Linked DNA regions of Homo sapiens. The main gene of each other region encodes a partner of the protein of the gene in region 2 in a complex. Each region holds a gene or a part of one and is shown on either strand. Other genes may lie near its edges. A codon is read from its position in the direction of its gene.

Region 1 (7,487 bases), on a different chromosome or scaffold from region 2:
GAGCAAATACACAGGATTATGGTTACAAACCAGGAGAAGAAAATCTGCTATTAGGGAATGTTAAGCATGGTATAAAAATAGTTACCGCAATCACAAAAGAGTTTTTATTTCCCACTATAGCTTAAAATATTAACTGTGGTTTACCAGAGAGACATGGTGAAGCCATACAAGTAAAACATATACTCAGGTGAAAGAAATGTTTAATTTCTAAAACATGAACAAAATAATTTTCTATACATAATTTAAATGGATATTAAATATTTATAGACATGATTTCAAAAACGTGGTAATTGTCTTCCATAACATCGTCCATGATAGAAGCCAGGAAACCATCACATTTTATCCCAAATGTTCGGTAATATCTTTAAACTGGGCCAAAATTAAGTTTCATTTAAAAGCTATCAAAAGCTATGACATTTTACATGGTTTTGTATACCAAATGCATTGTGCTAAGCCTGGGTGTACCCTCATGGTACTTAACACATGATAAGGCACACAAAGAATGCAAAATAAATATTTGTTAACTCATACATTTCCTTTTACAGCTTGATTATTAGACTTTCAAAATTAGTTATATTACTTTCTCAATTCCTAGTGTCATAAAGTACAATAATTCGAATCCTTAAATCTCTTATTCTAAAAAGCGACAAATTTCACCGACCAGGGGCCCAGATACCAGAATGTAAAAGGCACAGTTATTTATTTTATTTTATTTTTTAGAAAATGGAATGTGTTCTACTTCTTAAAGTACTCCAGAGAGTAATATTAATTACTATATTGGATTTTCTTCATAAATTATTTTTAAAAGTGGGTGGCAACAAAACTTTATAAAACAGACCCTTTGCTTACATCACCAAAATAAAGCAACAACCAAACAGAAACAACAATGAAAGGCATGTCTCTGTTACAAAGAATCCTAACCAACACAGTTGACCTACGAGATATTGATTGTGCAAGATGACTTATTGAGATGTGGAAAAGAGAAAAATGAGAACAGGTTTCAACATGAAAGATTTCATCATTAATTGAAGTTTGTCCAAAAAACATAGGTGCACATGCAGGATGTGCAAATTATTCTGGGAATGATAGGGGTCTTGAGAGATGGGAAAGAAGAAAACTAGCACAAGCACTGAAAATATATTGTTTCAAATTTAGAAATATGAAGTCCTTGATAGCAATATTTATATGCAATCTATCCGCACTTATTTAAAAATTAATATGTATCTATTTTTAGAGGCAAATTATTCTTACACAGTTACGCCGAGTTAACTGCAAAATGGGCTCTAGAAAAAGAGTACTGTGATCAGAGCAATGATTTCTAATGTTAACTTCAAATGACTTATGTTTTTGAATTTTATTAATTGTACATAAAGTTTACCCTACCTAATACTTGCAGTGCCTATCTAAAGACTTCTCTTTAGTTTCTTCAGTGACCTGAAACTGCCATGTTGGAGTAAATCTGATAGGACCCAGCCTCAATTCATAGAATATTAGTAATTATCTAGTCCAACTTCTGTATTCTACAGTTGGGAAACTGAACCTTCACAAAAGGGAAGTCGTTTTCGCAAAGTCATAGCAGATGAGTAGGTCTAAGTCTCATGATGGTGGCCACAGTGTCTAAATTGCTTGTATTTTATCACCATCACATAGCATAGTGCCTGGTACAAAGTAGGCATTAGGTATTCTACAGATTTCTTGGGTGGACTGATCAATGAAAAAATGAATACGCGAATGAATGAATGAATGAGACAATGGCTGAGCTAGGTTAGTCTATTTTCAGCAATAGGAGTTTGTCAGCATCTGGGTAGTTGCAGATGATGACTAGTTTTGTTACCACAGTCCCTCAAAATGTTCTTCTTGGAGTCATGTTGGTTAAAGAAATGATGCTGGGTACATATAGAAGCTGATACATCATGAGGCATTTAAAAATAATTTAAATTCTTTGTAATTTTAAAGTTTATCTGTGATATTGATTATTAGTGGAGTTACAGTTGTTTTAAGAGGCTTTGTCAATGCCACTATGGGGCACTGAACTTTTTGAACTGCCATGAACATAATGCTACACACATCCACATTATGTCTTCAGGAGTAGTGGTGATGGGCAAAGACACTTGTTTCAACCCCACCCTCAGCTATTTGAACATGCAGTAGCAAGTACTTGAAGCAAAAATAGGGCTCATTCTAAAGACAGTTTTCAGAAATGACAAAGGGAGAAAAGTAAAAGGGCTGTGAATATTTCAACTACTTAAAAGAGGAAAATCTGTTAAACTGGTTAAAATTGGAAAAATGTATCTAGGTCTTAAAGGAATATAGAAGTGAGTGGAAAATACCTTATCAAGTATAGGGCAAAGAGAGGATGTCAATAGCAGGTATTGGTGTGTAAACAAGTCAAATTTAGGTAAAAGAAGCGCGGACACGTTTCATTATGGATTCTTGGAAGCCATTCCCTGCAGATTTAAGTGGGTAATTGAGAGTGACATTTAAAGTGGCAGGAGACAGTCTAAGCAACAGCTTCTGTGTTCCACATAGTCAAATTCAAGTGCAAGAGAGGTCTTTGTAAACAGAGTTCGTGGCAGTGCTTTGTGATAAAAGAGGGGTCACTAAGACTGCTTAGGGACCCAGGTAAACTTCCAGCCTCCCTCCTCATCTCGACGCACAAAGGCTTGTCCCTGGTGGAAGGAATGAGTTTTCACATTACAATGAGGGCTCAGGGATGTGGAAAATGCCATCTCTGTCTTGTTGGGTGACACATGAGCAGTATAGTAAGGAAGAGTTTTCAGCCCCACTGGGGGATTTGAAAGTTGAGAAAGGATGTGGAAATCTTCTCCATGAGTGGCAGTGCTGTGCAAGGGGGTTGTTCTGTCACCTCTATAGTCAATTGGCATATCCTCTCTGGGGATATTTTTATAATCAACTGCATCATCCGGAAACTGGGAAAATGTGCTGGCGACTCTTCTGGGATGAGATGCGAGGGCACTGTAGTTAGCTGATGAGGTGTCATCGATAGTGTCAAGGTCTTTTAACCCAAGTGTTTGAAGGACCCAGGGATCCACAGGGGGCCCAGCTTGTTCTTCACAGTTAGCAAATTCACTAGAGAGGTTTCTTTTGGCATTTTTGGGATGGGGAATCTCAGCAGGAGAGTATCTTTGCTCTTTGGATTTTCTCTTCCCCTTCCTGAATTTTCCATATGCTTTGGAGAACTCATCAGATGAGAGCAATTTCTAGGGAAGTGATATTTGAAAGTTATACTTTTTTCATATATTTACTAGTTAACTAAATTATTTCGGAAAAAATGCTTAAATTTCTCTTCACACAAGTAAGATGGATTGGATTAGCTTGTTTGTAAAGTAAAATCTGTGATGACAAGTTACTGCCTAAAAACTCTAAATCACATTTTTTACTCAATTGTTTTAAATGTTGAAAGGACCAGATGATATTTTTAAGATTTCAGCACCGGCAAGTTATTATTATTATAACAATAATAGCACTATCATTTATTAAGTTACCATTTGTAAATAAACTATCATTTATTTATAAATAATACTTATATTTATTTATAAATATTTATAAATAATACTTATATTTATTTATAAATATTTATAAATAATACTTATATTTATTTATAAATATTTATAAATAAATAAAAATATTTATTAATATATATTTATAAATATTTAGAAATAGATATATTTATAAATATTTATATATTTATAAATATATTAATAAATATTAATTTATATAAGTAAATATTCATAAATTTATATGAATAAATATTTATAAATAAATATAAATATATTTATAAACAATATTATTTATACATAATATCTTTATCATTTATAAATGAACTATCATTTACTACAATTTATAAAGCACTGATTACATGTATTATCTCATTGGATATAGATGTTATTAAAATCTTCATTAATGAGGAAACTAAAGCACAGATATATTAATGACTTGCTGAGAATGATGTAGCTTGCACATAAACCTAAGCCACCCAAATCTACACAGATCCTCTGATTAAACACTATACAACACTGCTTCTTCTTATTTCATTAACTTTCAAAGCACTTCTGAGATATATTATTATATTATTCTAAATATTGGAAAATTATTAAGACTGACAGATAAAACTGCCTAGTTATTATCACTTAGTAATATAATAAGTGTCCTTTTATGGAATGGTGGCTGGAGTTAGGAGCCCAGGAAAATAGCCTGGCCTATTCTCTTAAAATATTCTCTTTTTAACAAAGGCAACTGAATTGTAAAGAAATCAAATCTAGTGTCTTCTATTCTCTGAACTGCTCTATTTAGTAAGAGTAGCAAGAAGCATCATCAATTTAGATCAAATAATTTCAAATAATGCAGCTTGTCTAGAAGTATGGAAAAGATTGATGATGAAAGCATTAATGATAACATAATGGCAACTAGATAATAAAAAATTGAAAGGCAAAGAATTGAGCATGAACAAAAGAAGACTACTGGCAAGTTATTTATCCTTGAGTTAGAAATAGCTCATTTTAAAAGTGGAGAAAAAATGTGAATTAAATGATAATGTAATTGTGTATGCCTAATTGCCTAATATAATTTGTAAATGCCAAATCAAGAGATTTGGGCTCAGGCAATATTCACAGCATTTTAGATCTAGCAGAATTTTTAAAAGATATTTTAGACCATCCATTACAGATGAAGTTAAGTGAGGATCTAAGTAAGAATGATTTGCCTAAAGTCAAACAGATCATTAAAAGAACTGAGTGTCTTTTAGATCTGCTTCCCGTACCAGCATTCCATCCATCTAATTCTGCCTTTTGATTAACACTGATTGTCTCAGCAACCCCCACCCTCGACTAGCATTTGATTTTTAAGCAACTTCTTTTGTAACATAAGACTGACATCTGCAATCTAGGTACTTCAGAGAAATGATAGATAAAAATTCTTGTGAAAGAGCCGTTATTTCCTTAAGAAAAACCATCCATCTTATAAATGCATATCAAGATACACTGTTTAATCAAGGAGTTTTACATAAATCATTTCCTTTCTCAAATCACTGCTTTGTTCTTATAAAGTAGATACATACATCATACATACCTTGGCCTTTTCTTCAAGACATTTAACCAAAGCAGAATTCAGGTATTGTCTGAGGTGATTATTCTCTTCGTGTAACCTGGCGAGTTCTTCTTCCTTCTGCACCAGGGTATCTTGCAGCTACAAAAAGCAGACAGTGGTGAAGGCTGCTCCACTATATTGACTTTGTAACCTTATAATAATGCCACTGCTCCTTAACTGCCTTAAACTTGATGATTGTTTGTTGTATGAACACAAGCACAGGGAGCCCTCATCCTGAGAGGCCTAAATTAAATCTACATCCCCCTAATGCCTAGTTGTTCAGCTTTGTGCTCTGAATGTTCATTCATTGCAAAGCATTTGGAGAGATTATAATAGACTTTTAAAATTGTAACCACAAGCGAATCAGGTAGATATGAAGGAAAATGAGCTGCATGCAACTGTTTAAATATAGAAAATGATGTTTAGGAAGATGTTGCTGGACTCCTTCCTTGCACTTCTAAATAAATAAATAAAAAATAGAGGTGGGTCGCCTTTTTTCAGCCTCAAATGGACCTGTCTGTATGTCCACTAGGTTAAATTAAATATAGAAAATGATGTTTAGGAAGATTTTGCTGGACTCCTCCCTTGCATGTTTAAATAAATAAATAAATAAAAATAGAGGTGGGTTGGCTTCTTTCAGCCTCAGATTGATCTGTCTGTATGTCCACTAGATTAAATTATCCTTCAGGGGCAAAACTGACACAACATGTAAAAAGCAATCTTAGGAAAATATTTTATAATCATTATGTCTTCTCCAAGTATTAGCTATGCTTATGGTTTAAAAATACTGTCACACTCATTATATCATTCGATCTTTTCAAACGCTCTCTGAGATAGGCAGTACAAGGTTTACAATTCCATAAATGAGGACAAGGAAAAGGATTCAAGGTCATACGGCTAAAATGTGTAAAGTGAGAGCTTGACTGCAGGCCTTTCTAGAGTGTCTTGCTTGTTTTTCTTTTCTCTGACATTGATCATCTAACTTTGATCTCTCTTTGGACACACCAGTCACTTTGGTTCTAAACTGAGTCAGCATGAATTTCAAAAGGGAAAAGAAGCAAGATATTAGCAGTGGGGAATGGACCACATAGAACATGACCAGTCTCAATGTTCTGACTTACACATACCTGCTTATTTCTGTAGAGCTGAGAGGAAAGCTGAGCCTCTTCCCATGAGCACAAGTCCGGAAGAGGAAAATTTGAGTCACTGAATGATTCTGTGAAAATACAAATAGATAACTGAGAAAATAATCTTGTAGTTTCTGTGTAATAAAGAAACTTATCAAATCAAATCAGAAAGTTTAATAGGTTCAATTATTTTTCTTAAACAGCTATTGCTGCCATACAGGAAAACAAGACATTTAAAGTTTTTTAGAAAAGGCAAGCAAGCTGTGAGAGACAAATATTTATATGCTGTATGACATAGCAGTTAAAAAGGTAAATTTTTTTAAGCAGTAAGGGGTCACATTCTTGCCTAATATATGTATTCCTGCTGGATAAATTAAAGACTGTCCAGTCTTTGTCATTAATTTATGCAAATACTTATTGATCTCCCCCAAACTCGGCATAACATTGTAATTCCATTATGTTTTTCTAGTTTTTATCTTATTTTCTAAGTTTTAGCACTTGATAATGTACTGTTTGGCTCTATAATTAAATTCTAGTCTGTAATGCTACTAGTTTCTCTGCCTGTCTGCCTGCCTGTTTTAATCTAACGGACTGTATTTATTTGGAATTTTATGTGGTAGCACTTTCTACTTTAAAACAATTTGGACCTTGCTTCTTTGAAGATCTTAATGAAAATCTCAAAACTGTGCCCAGACCTTATCTGTTTCAACTGTCCTAATCTGTATATTTTATAAATGTTTTTTCAAAGTGCCTTTTCCCCCCATATTTGACAGTCAGCTCTATCTATCAATAAAAAACTATGGTTGGGCATACTAACCAGGTCTACTTTTACTTTCTTTTCTTCATCTAGTACAGTTTAGACTCTTGTCCTTCTCTGGTTATATTGTTGATACTGAAATATTTTTGATTAAAGTGAAATGATGAGTAAGGAGATAGGAATAAAATGGCATAAGTAGTTTGGGTTCACATTCTTGGGCATTTTGTTTTTACTGTTGCTTGTAGTGGAAAGCTAATATTCAACAATGTCCTCCCTGACATTTAAGTGTGCTTTTAATATTTGGGGTTCCTTTGTTTGTGTCTTTTTAAAAAATAAAACAAATCATGTAGCAGAACCAACAGTATGGATATTTAATTCTGGGGTGTCTGAGAATTCTTTAAGAAACTTGAGTGTTTAACACAGACATTTCTTTAATATTTATAAATACTGCTGGTATGCCACAGATCAAGATTAATATGTCATTTTACATCAATGCT
Region 2 (8,129 bases):
TCTTTTTTTTTTTTTTTTTTGAGACAAGAGTCTTGCTCTGTCGCCCAGGCCAGAGTGCAGTGGTGCAATCTTAGCTCGCTGCAACTTCCACCTCCTGGGTTCAAGCGATTCTCTTGCCTCAGCCTCCCTAGTAGCTGAGATTACAGGCATGCATCACCATGCCCAGCTAATTTTTGTATTTTTAGTAGAGACAGGGTTTCGCCATGATGGCCAGGCTGGTCTCAAACTCCTGACCTCAAGTGATCCGCCCACCTCGGCCTCCCAAAGTGCTGGGATTACAGGCGCGAGCCACCGCACCCAGCCTTTACTTCTTAATAAAAGAGACACTGCTTATATGCCAGAAAGTAATATTGGAAGGAAAATGTTTTAAAATTTGTAACCTAGTGTACTATATCATGTTCAAGGAATCCAGTTGGGGGAAAATTAGTGTTCTAGATTAGAACAGTTTCATCCTCCTCCACTGCCCTAAGCCCCAGCACATTGCCATCCCTAAAGTAGTCACTGACTCTGCCTGGTGTATGTTAAAAGGTCACCATTAAAAAAATCAATTTCTTCCCTAGACAAAAGGTCGTGATCACTTTTAAACAAACCAAGGTAGACTTACGAGGCTAACAGCATAGCAGCAGTGCCCACAAGCTGAAGTTTTCCTCTCAGCACTGACATGGAAGACAGGAACCTATCAATGTAGTTCACAGCCAAATGCAGGGTCTCATTCTGTAGTTTATATTCTTCTCCTACTTCAACTAACCAGTCCACGAGGATAGCTCTCATACTGTTAGTGATGTCTGGCTGTTTCTTCATGTAACCCACTTTAGGTTTACATTTAACCTATTGAGAAAATTATTTATAGTGTTAAAATTATTCTAGTGTAAAAACTGCAATTAGATTATTTTACCATTAATTACGAGAGGCTACATGCTATAAACTTAACTGTAGCATTAGAATAATTCATTAGTTTAAAAATTTAAACATTATCCTCTCAATTTCATTTAGCCACATTTAACAAATACATTATACAAACTGGATTCAGAGAACCTTTACCTCCATTTCCCTAAGGTATGTGTGAATATCCTCATGGTAGTCTGGTACTTCATTAACACTCACTGGCTTTTCATCTTCTAATATAATTGACATGTCCATAGTATGTGGTGACTCTGGGACAATTCAAAAGATATGATTAAATTAATTGTTTGCCTATTTAGTTTAATAGCTAAAAATGACTGCCATGGAAGGAATCTCATATTAACAAAGCACTTATTTCTTCAAACTAAAAAGAGCTTCTCATGACAAAATATGTAGAATATTTTACCCTAGTCTCAGTATCTCTGTACATAGAACTTTGGAATGATTTTAGTTAATGAGGGAAAAAAAAAAAAACATATTGGTAGGCCCCTAACAGGAAAATGAGAATCAGGTATTATCTTAAAGTATCCATCTTCCACAACAGAAAGGAGCAAATGGCATGGTGGTTCTGTTAGGACAGAACACTTTTAAAATCCAAGTTTTGAGATAATATCTAAGATTTGTCCCAAGAGAAACTGCAGATCCCAGAGTCTGACATATATAAAGCACAAGTAGGCAATAGCTAGCATCAGTTAAATGGCCTCTATTAACAAGTGTTATTAAGAAATTAGGTTTGTTATGGGCAAATGGATTAACACTATAAATAATTTATTTTTTGTAGTATAAATTATTTTGAAGCAAAGAGTATCATCCATTATTCCTTTCACTTCAAAGATCACCTTGAGATTAAACATTTTCTGCAAAATTTTGATAAAAACACACAAATTATTATTTCCAAAGGACTTTTCCTGCTCACCCCTCCTTCCTCACAATCAATACAACTAAAACTAAAATGAGATTGGATTTAGTGAGCTGTCCAGTGACTCAATATCCCTAGGGCAAAGAAATAGTACAAACTGCAAAGAGCTGTTTACAGAAGCTACTTTAATACATGGGTAAGAGTAAACAGCCATGGTACAACTATTTACTTGTAGGAGGAAAAGTGTCACTTTCTGGTATCAGATGCTAATCCAGACTGGTTTTATAGAAACAAAATTATAAAACTGGAAGAGACGTTATGTAATCACAATATTTAAGACTGCATCTTCAAATAGCACTAAGTGATATATAAGTGAGTTAAATAAAACTGAAATCTATTCTCCCAACCAAGAACACATTTATGGGATCAGATTAAAATAAGCATTTAAGATCTAATTATAATTAGATTGATGTGACTGGCAGTGAACCTGAAAGAGCACTGGATAAGGATCTTTTTGTATGTCACCAAGTCAAGTGTTAGCTGTGAGATCTGAGATAAGTCACATCCTTTCTAAGCCTTGTTACATTAAACCTAACTCACTATAGTCAAAATGACTACATAAGACATCTTAAAATGCAAATCATTAATATCATCTAATAATTATAATTACCGTAATTCCACACAGATTTTCCTTAAAACTTACCAAAACTACCATCCATTGGATAATCAAGAGGGACCAATGGTTTTCTGGGTCCAGGTAAACTAATGGCTGAATTAAAAGCCAGGGCATCTTCACGCTCTATTTTTTGAGATTCAGCTGGCTTCTTCTGAGCTTCTTTTTCTGCTTCATCCACATGAATGGTGAACGCAGGCTGTTTACTGTTTGCTTTCCAAGGAGGAACGGTGACATGCTCATCATTTACAGGAAGATCCTTAAGGGGTGCAACCTAAAAAAAAATTAATAACTGGCTTTGAGCCTACTAGTCTTGCATTCTTTCTCTTATGGGTGTTGGCCTTTGCTTTTTCTCCCAAATACTCTATCAGGAATTAAACTTTCTGGGACAAAGAAGAGTTTCAGTATTCAAAAGAGAAGGGATGTTCCCATTTGTCACAGGCATTCCCACAAAGGCTATCAATAGATAACACTAGGTGGAATTATGCAAAACTTATCAGGGCCACAAGAAGGGTCGGGTGACAGGCCAATACGTGACAAGTTTAGGAAAGACAGCAAAAAAATTGTTGGTTCACCACTGTCGCCCGAGGGTGGAGCAACAGAGCAAATCCGGCTAAAATGGCGGAATTTGCCAAAAGCAAAGTATTTTGTACACGCTTTTCTAAAGTAGAGGTCATCTCTTAAGCGTGAGGAGGATAGGGGTCAGAGTCCTACAGCAGTGCCTGGGGTTTAAAAGTGGAGAGAAAGGCGCGGAGCTGAGCGAAGACTACACGTTTTAGAGCTTGGTTTGACCCCATTATGTACAGGCAGATGCCCCCTATAGAGAGCAGACCGGCAGCATACACACAGTGTTGGCGGGGTCCTGATGCTAATATGGGAGAACTCCTACTGTGGCAAACCACACACCAGCACCAACTGCACTCCAGACCCTGGCCCCCTTCCAAAAGCCCAGGACATGCCTTCTCGCCACTCTTCTCTGCCTGCTAAGCCAATGCCAAACCCTGCTCGACCCACCCTCCTGCAGATATCCCGCATCCCTTTACCCGTCTCGTCTTCGGCCTCTGCTGCTGCGCTAGACCCCGCGGGTTCCCGGACTTCAGTACCGCCAGCGCGGCCCGGGTCCGCGGTTGTTGGACGGGCGCTGCCTTTTCCGGGTTGATATTCTCCTGGTCCTCTTGGAGCGCCGTCTGCTGCAATGCTAGCAGCGCCGAGCCCGCCTCGCGGGTCGCAGGCCCCGGCGCAGAGTTGCCCAACATCACTGCTCCCGGGAGTGGACGGCGGGATCAGCCTGCGGCGCCAAGCAGCGTGCACTCTGCCCAGCCGACCACTCGCACCGACCCGGCCAAAGAATAGTCGTAGCCGCCGGTCGCAGCCCAGGCCAGCCTACCAGCCCGCCCGCTCGCTCACCCAGCTCGAGACCACGCAGGGCCGAGGAGGTTGCGAAAGGCGCAGGCAGGCACTGCCCAGCGTGGCGAGCCAAAGACGCCCAGAGATGCAGCGAGCAGCCCGCCGGAGCGGCGGCTGTTCTTGCAGTTCAAGTATCCCGCGACTATTGAAATGGACCAATGAAAGCGCTCGCGGCCTTGACGTCATTCAAGGCGACAGGGTCGCAGGCGAGTGAAGGGTAAACCAAAGGAAACTGAGCAGGGGCGGGGCAGGAGGGAGAAACAAACTGGCTGGGGCGGGAGAAAACGCCTGCGCGGGGCGGGGAGAGGTAGGATTTAGGGCCCGACGCTTCCGATTATTTTAAGCTGAGCCACCTAGTGAGCGAGGCTGTCCGAAGGCTGACTCTAAGCCTTTTAGGGAATTAAACGGAATTAAACTTTGGCGACTATCATTTGGGTTGCCCAGCCTTTAGCTCTGGGACGTCTAGTTAGCTTAAGTGACTTTTTCCAAAGGTCTAAAATCTGGGGCACGTTTTTCAGTATCTCCGATTCTCCGTTTTCTTATGTGTTAATAGGGACTAATAACTACAGTCATATGGTTGTTAGGATTAAATAATGTGCATAAATTATTTAACACGGAGCTCACATAGTAATACAGTACTCAAGTGTCAAGACTGTAATGTCATCTTAACATTTAGGCGTTTATTCATAGTAACCAGAAATTGTGTTTTATGCTTTTTATTTTTCCTAATGAAGATGCAATTAATTTAAGATGGCACCTTGAACTACTGTTGATATATATAATAAATAGCAGTGCATTACAAAATATTCAAATACAGTCATTAATTTTTTTCTATTTTTCCCCAAGCTGTGGCAACCAACAAAAAACACAATGACGTTCTAGTGACCTAGATATAATTATGTTCCTTTCAGAAGTAAAGTTTTTTAAACATAGTAAAAACAATATGACCTTATTAAAATAAAACTCTCTTAACTATACGTGCCTTTAACAAATTTTTATATTTATATATAAATATAAGAATATACAAAGCTTGCACATAACTAATAAGTATAATAGCATATCATTAAGAAGCACTGTTTTCTAAAAAATTCGTGAGTCTGCCCTTCTTGAAACATAAAGCTTATTTTCCATTATCTGTATGCCATTTTAAAACCTTTCAATATTCCCTTGAAATTAATAAATATGAATTAAGATTAATGCACAAAACTTCTGTAGCCTTAATGTCATATATGATAAAAAGAGATCTAGAAGATACTAGTGTAGGAAAATCTAAGATGGCATCACTATTTCTGCACTCTTCACTTGAAGCACGCTGAATAGCTCCACTGGTTACAGCATGTCTAATTAAGATCCCCCGACTCTGTGTAAGCTCTTCTTATTTCCTGGCTACAATTTATAGCACTGAGCCAAGTCCAGCATTTCCACAAACTGCAGCAGAGTCATAAAACACTACCAAGCAAAAGGAATATCAGTTGCAAATCAATCCTATCTCCTAGAAAAAACAATTGGTAGGTTATTTCCACTAGCTGGCAACATACATAGTAACCAGGACACAAAGCAAGTACCAGTACTTGGGTTCTGGTCCCAGCTTTACAAAATATTAGCATGTCCTCTTAATCACAAAATTTCACTGAGAATCAGTTTTCTTATATGATTTGACAAATTTTACAACAGTTGTGAAGATCAAATAAGGTAATATATAAAAATACATTTTGAAGCCTATAAAGCGGTCTACATGTTTATGTGTTTATGTACCTTGTAATACATTTGAATATATTTTAATTTTCCACATATTACTTCTCAATTTAAAAATTAAAACAGCCACTTGCCAAAAATTCATTAAAATCCTATTTAAATCATTCTACTTGTGTTTTAAAAATAAAAAGACTCTTTTAGTTTTAGAAAGTTCAATTTGTCAAAAGAAATAGAAGCATTACTTTAAAAAGCCATTATATCTCAAATATTTTTAGATATAAAAAAGCATTTGAAATTAAAGTACATACACAGTTAACTTCTAATTCTCTTTTAACATTTTTCATTTAAACAGACCACTTCTTTGGGACTTTACCTTATTTGTATGTCATGCTGCATCGAAGAATGAAATCAATGCATTTTGGTCATAACTGTCCAGAATTTCCAATAGAAGGGGTACTTTAGTTTTTACATTGGTGCCTTTAAACTTAAATTTATCTATGAAAAGATCAGTGATCATGCCTTTAAAGAAAAAACATAAATTTCCTGTCAGTGATTAGTTATATTTAATGACACAGTATTTCACTAAAGTAATTGCTTGATAATCTATTTTTAAGCACCTGTAATTCCATGATTTAACATACACAAACCTAAAAGCCATGTTTTTAAAAATAGTCATTTTGGGGGGATTTTAAAACAAGTTTCAAGATATAAATCATCTGCCTAATAACCCTCTTAACAATTGATTACAAGCTATTAATTCAGACAATCAACTACTGGCCATTTTTGAACTGCTATCAGTATATATAACATCACAACAAGTGGTATATTTTTTCCACCAAGCTGACCATTTTGACATAGTCTAGGCAGATTCTATTTTTAACAGCTTATCTGAATTAAAATATTCCACCTATATGTTGACCATTCTTGGGATTTGACTTGAAGGCAAATAGTCCTAGGTTCAAAGATCTGGGCAAATCATTTCACCTTGAGTTTTCTCATATGTAAAACAGGAATAATTCAAGCTGTCAATCCTTTATCCAAAAAGCTTGATGCAAGATGTATTTCAGAATTTTTCCTATTTTAGGAAGATAATGAAAGGAATATACTATGGTATTAACCCCAAGGGGACTGAGTAGCAGCATCCAATAGCAAAACATAGTACTATTTCTGGCACAAAATATACGGATGAATATTTGCACTAAGTGGAATAAAAAAGATATAACCTTGGGCTGGGCACGGTGGCTCATGCCTGTAATCCCAGCACTTTGGGAGGCTGAGGTGGGCAGATCACGAAGTCAGGGGTTGGAGACCAGCCTGGCCAATATGGTGAAACCCTGTCTCTACTAAAAGTACAAAAAAATTAGCTGGGCATGGTGGCGCACACCTGTAATCGCAGCTACTCAGGAGGCTGAGGCAGGAGAATTGCTTGAACCCAGGGGGCAGAGGCTGCAGTAAGCCGAGATCGCGCCACTGACTCCAGCCTGGGAGACCAAGCGAGACTCTGTCTCAAAAAACAAACAAACAAACAAACAAAAAATATATATAAAACCTCATGTCAGTTTAAGTCAGATTTTGTTATTAAATTAATTCAGATTAAGTCAAGATTTTGCTGTCAAATTATTTATGAAAAAAACTTTGGTTTACAAAGCTGTCTGGATTTTGCAATCAGTGATATTATGTACAGCCAATCTCATAAGTTATTATAAGGATAAAAGAGATCATGTGCTTGTCATGTAATAAAGGTTAAGACATTAAATATAGCTACAGTTTGTGAGAAAGTCTCTGGATATGTAATAAAAAATTCAGTAGGCAGGCTTAAGGATCCATGTGTACTAGTGATACCAATTGGCTCTACAGTGACTATGGAAGGCTTGGCATAGTGTAAAAGGCATGCATTTTGGGGTGAGAAGATTCTAATGCAGGCATGATCACTAACTTGCTAGGTGACAACAAATTCCTTAGACTCAGATTTCAGTTAAAGCATATGAAAAATGAAGATAATACCACCTACCTTGCAGAGCTATTGTAAGGATTAAATATCTCACCTGATTATGAAGACAGTGTAAATAGTGTGCTATATACAACAGGTCTTATGTAAAGATTGCTAACAAAATTGTTTTTCTTAAGCTGTTTCTTCCTTCCTCACTCCTTCTTTCCCTCTCCTCACCTCCCTTACTCTGTTTCAATACAATTTGTGAAACATTCAGCTTCTCACCACCAAAGTTTTGAACTATAAATTGACACAACACAAATACTGTATATCCTTTATTAAATTTTGCCTTAAAAATTTTAAATGCTGCATTTTTATAATTCACAATAGCAACAAAACATGACAATTATTTGTGTGAAATACAGTCTAAGCTCTAAAGGTTCATAGATTACATTCATTTTATACCAGGTTTGTTCATATATATAGATTAATTCATCACAGTATACTTATTTCTTAATATACTTGCATTTTATCAAGTAAAAGAATTAAATATTAAAAGTAGCTTGACAAAATACAGAAATATTCTGTGCAATAAATTTGTTGTCAACTGATTCATGACTGGTTCATGAATCATGACTGATGTAATCTTTTTATCTTTCTGC

What was found.
Region 1: the proteins of CCNA2 (region 2) and GMNC are in contact, whole or in part, in a cryo-EM structure (PDB 9HIU), measured with the Homo sapiens proteins. Residues at the interface, in NP_001228.2 of Homo sapiens: Met210, Ile213, Leu214, Asp216, Trp217, Glu220, Val221, Glu224, Arg250, Leu253, Gln254, Tyr280, Ile281, Thr282, Asp283, Thr285; in NP_001140158.1 of Homo sapiens: Asn165 (codon at 3,113), Ala166 (codon at 3,110), Lys167 (codon at 3,107), Arg168 (codon at 3,104), Asn169 (codon at 3,101), Leu170 (codon at 3,098), Ser171 (codon at 3,095), Glu173 (codon at 3,089), Phe174 (codon at 3,086), Ala175 (codon at 3,083).

The regions. Positions count from the first base shown.
Region 1 is NC_000003.12:190,852,695-190,860,181, forward strand, and holds the end of GMNC (geminin coiled-coil domain-containing protein 1), read right to left. Parts: intron 6,323-7,487; coding exon 6,234-6,322; intron 5,206-6,233; coding exon 5,089-5,205; intron 3,222-5,088; coding exon 2,601-3,221; 3' UTR 43-2,600; downstream 1-42. UniProt on the Homo sapiens protein: Regulator of DNA replication. Promotes initiation of chromosomal DNA replication by mediating TOPBP1- and CDK2-dependent recruitment of CDC45L onto replication origins.
Region 2 is NC_000004.12:121,819,938-121,828,066, forward strand, and holds the start of CCNA2 (cyclin-A2), read right to left. Parts: upstream 3,947-8,129; 5' UTR 3,692-3,946; coding exon 3,479-3,691; intron 2,710-3,478; coding exon 2,466-2,709; intron 1,155-2,465; coding exon 1,042-1,154; intron 829-1,041; coding exon 605-828; intron 1-604. Other genes in the region: BBSome complex member BBS7, read right to left, coding at 5,923-6,056. UniProt on the Homo sapiens protein: Cyclin which controls both the G1/S and the G2/M transition phases of the cell cycle. Functions through the formation of specific serine/threonine protein kinase holoenzyme complexes with the cyclin-dependent protein kinases CDK1 or CDK2.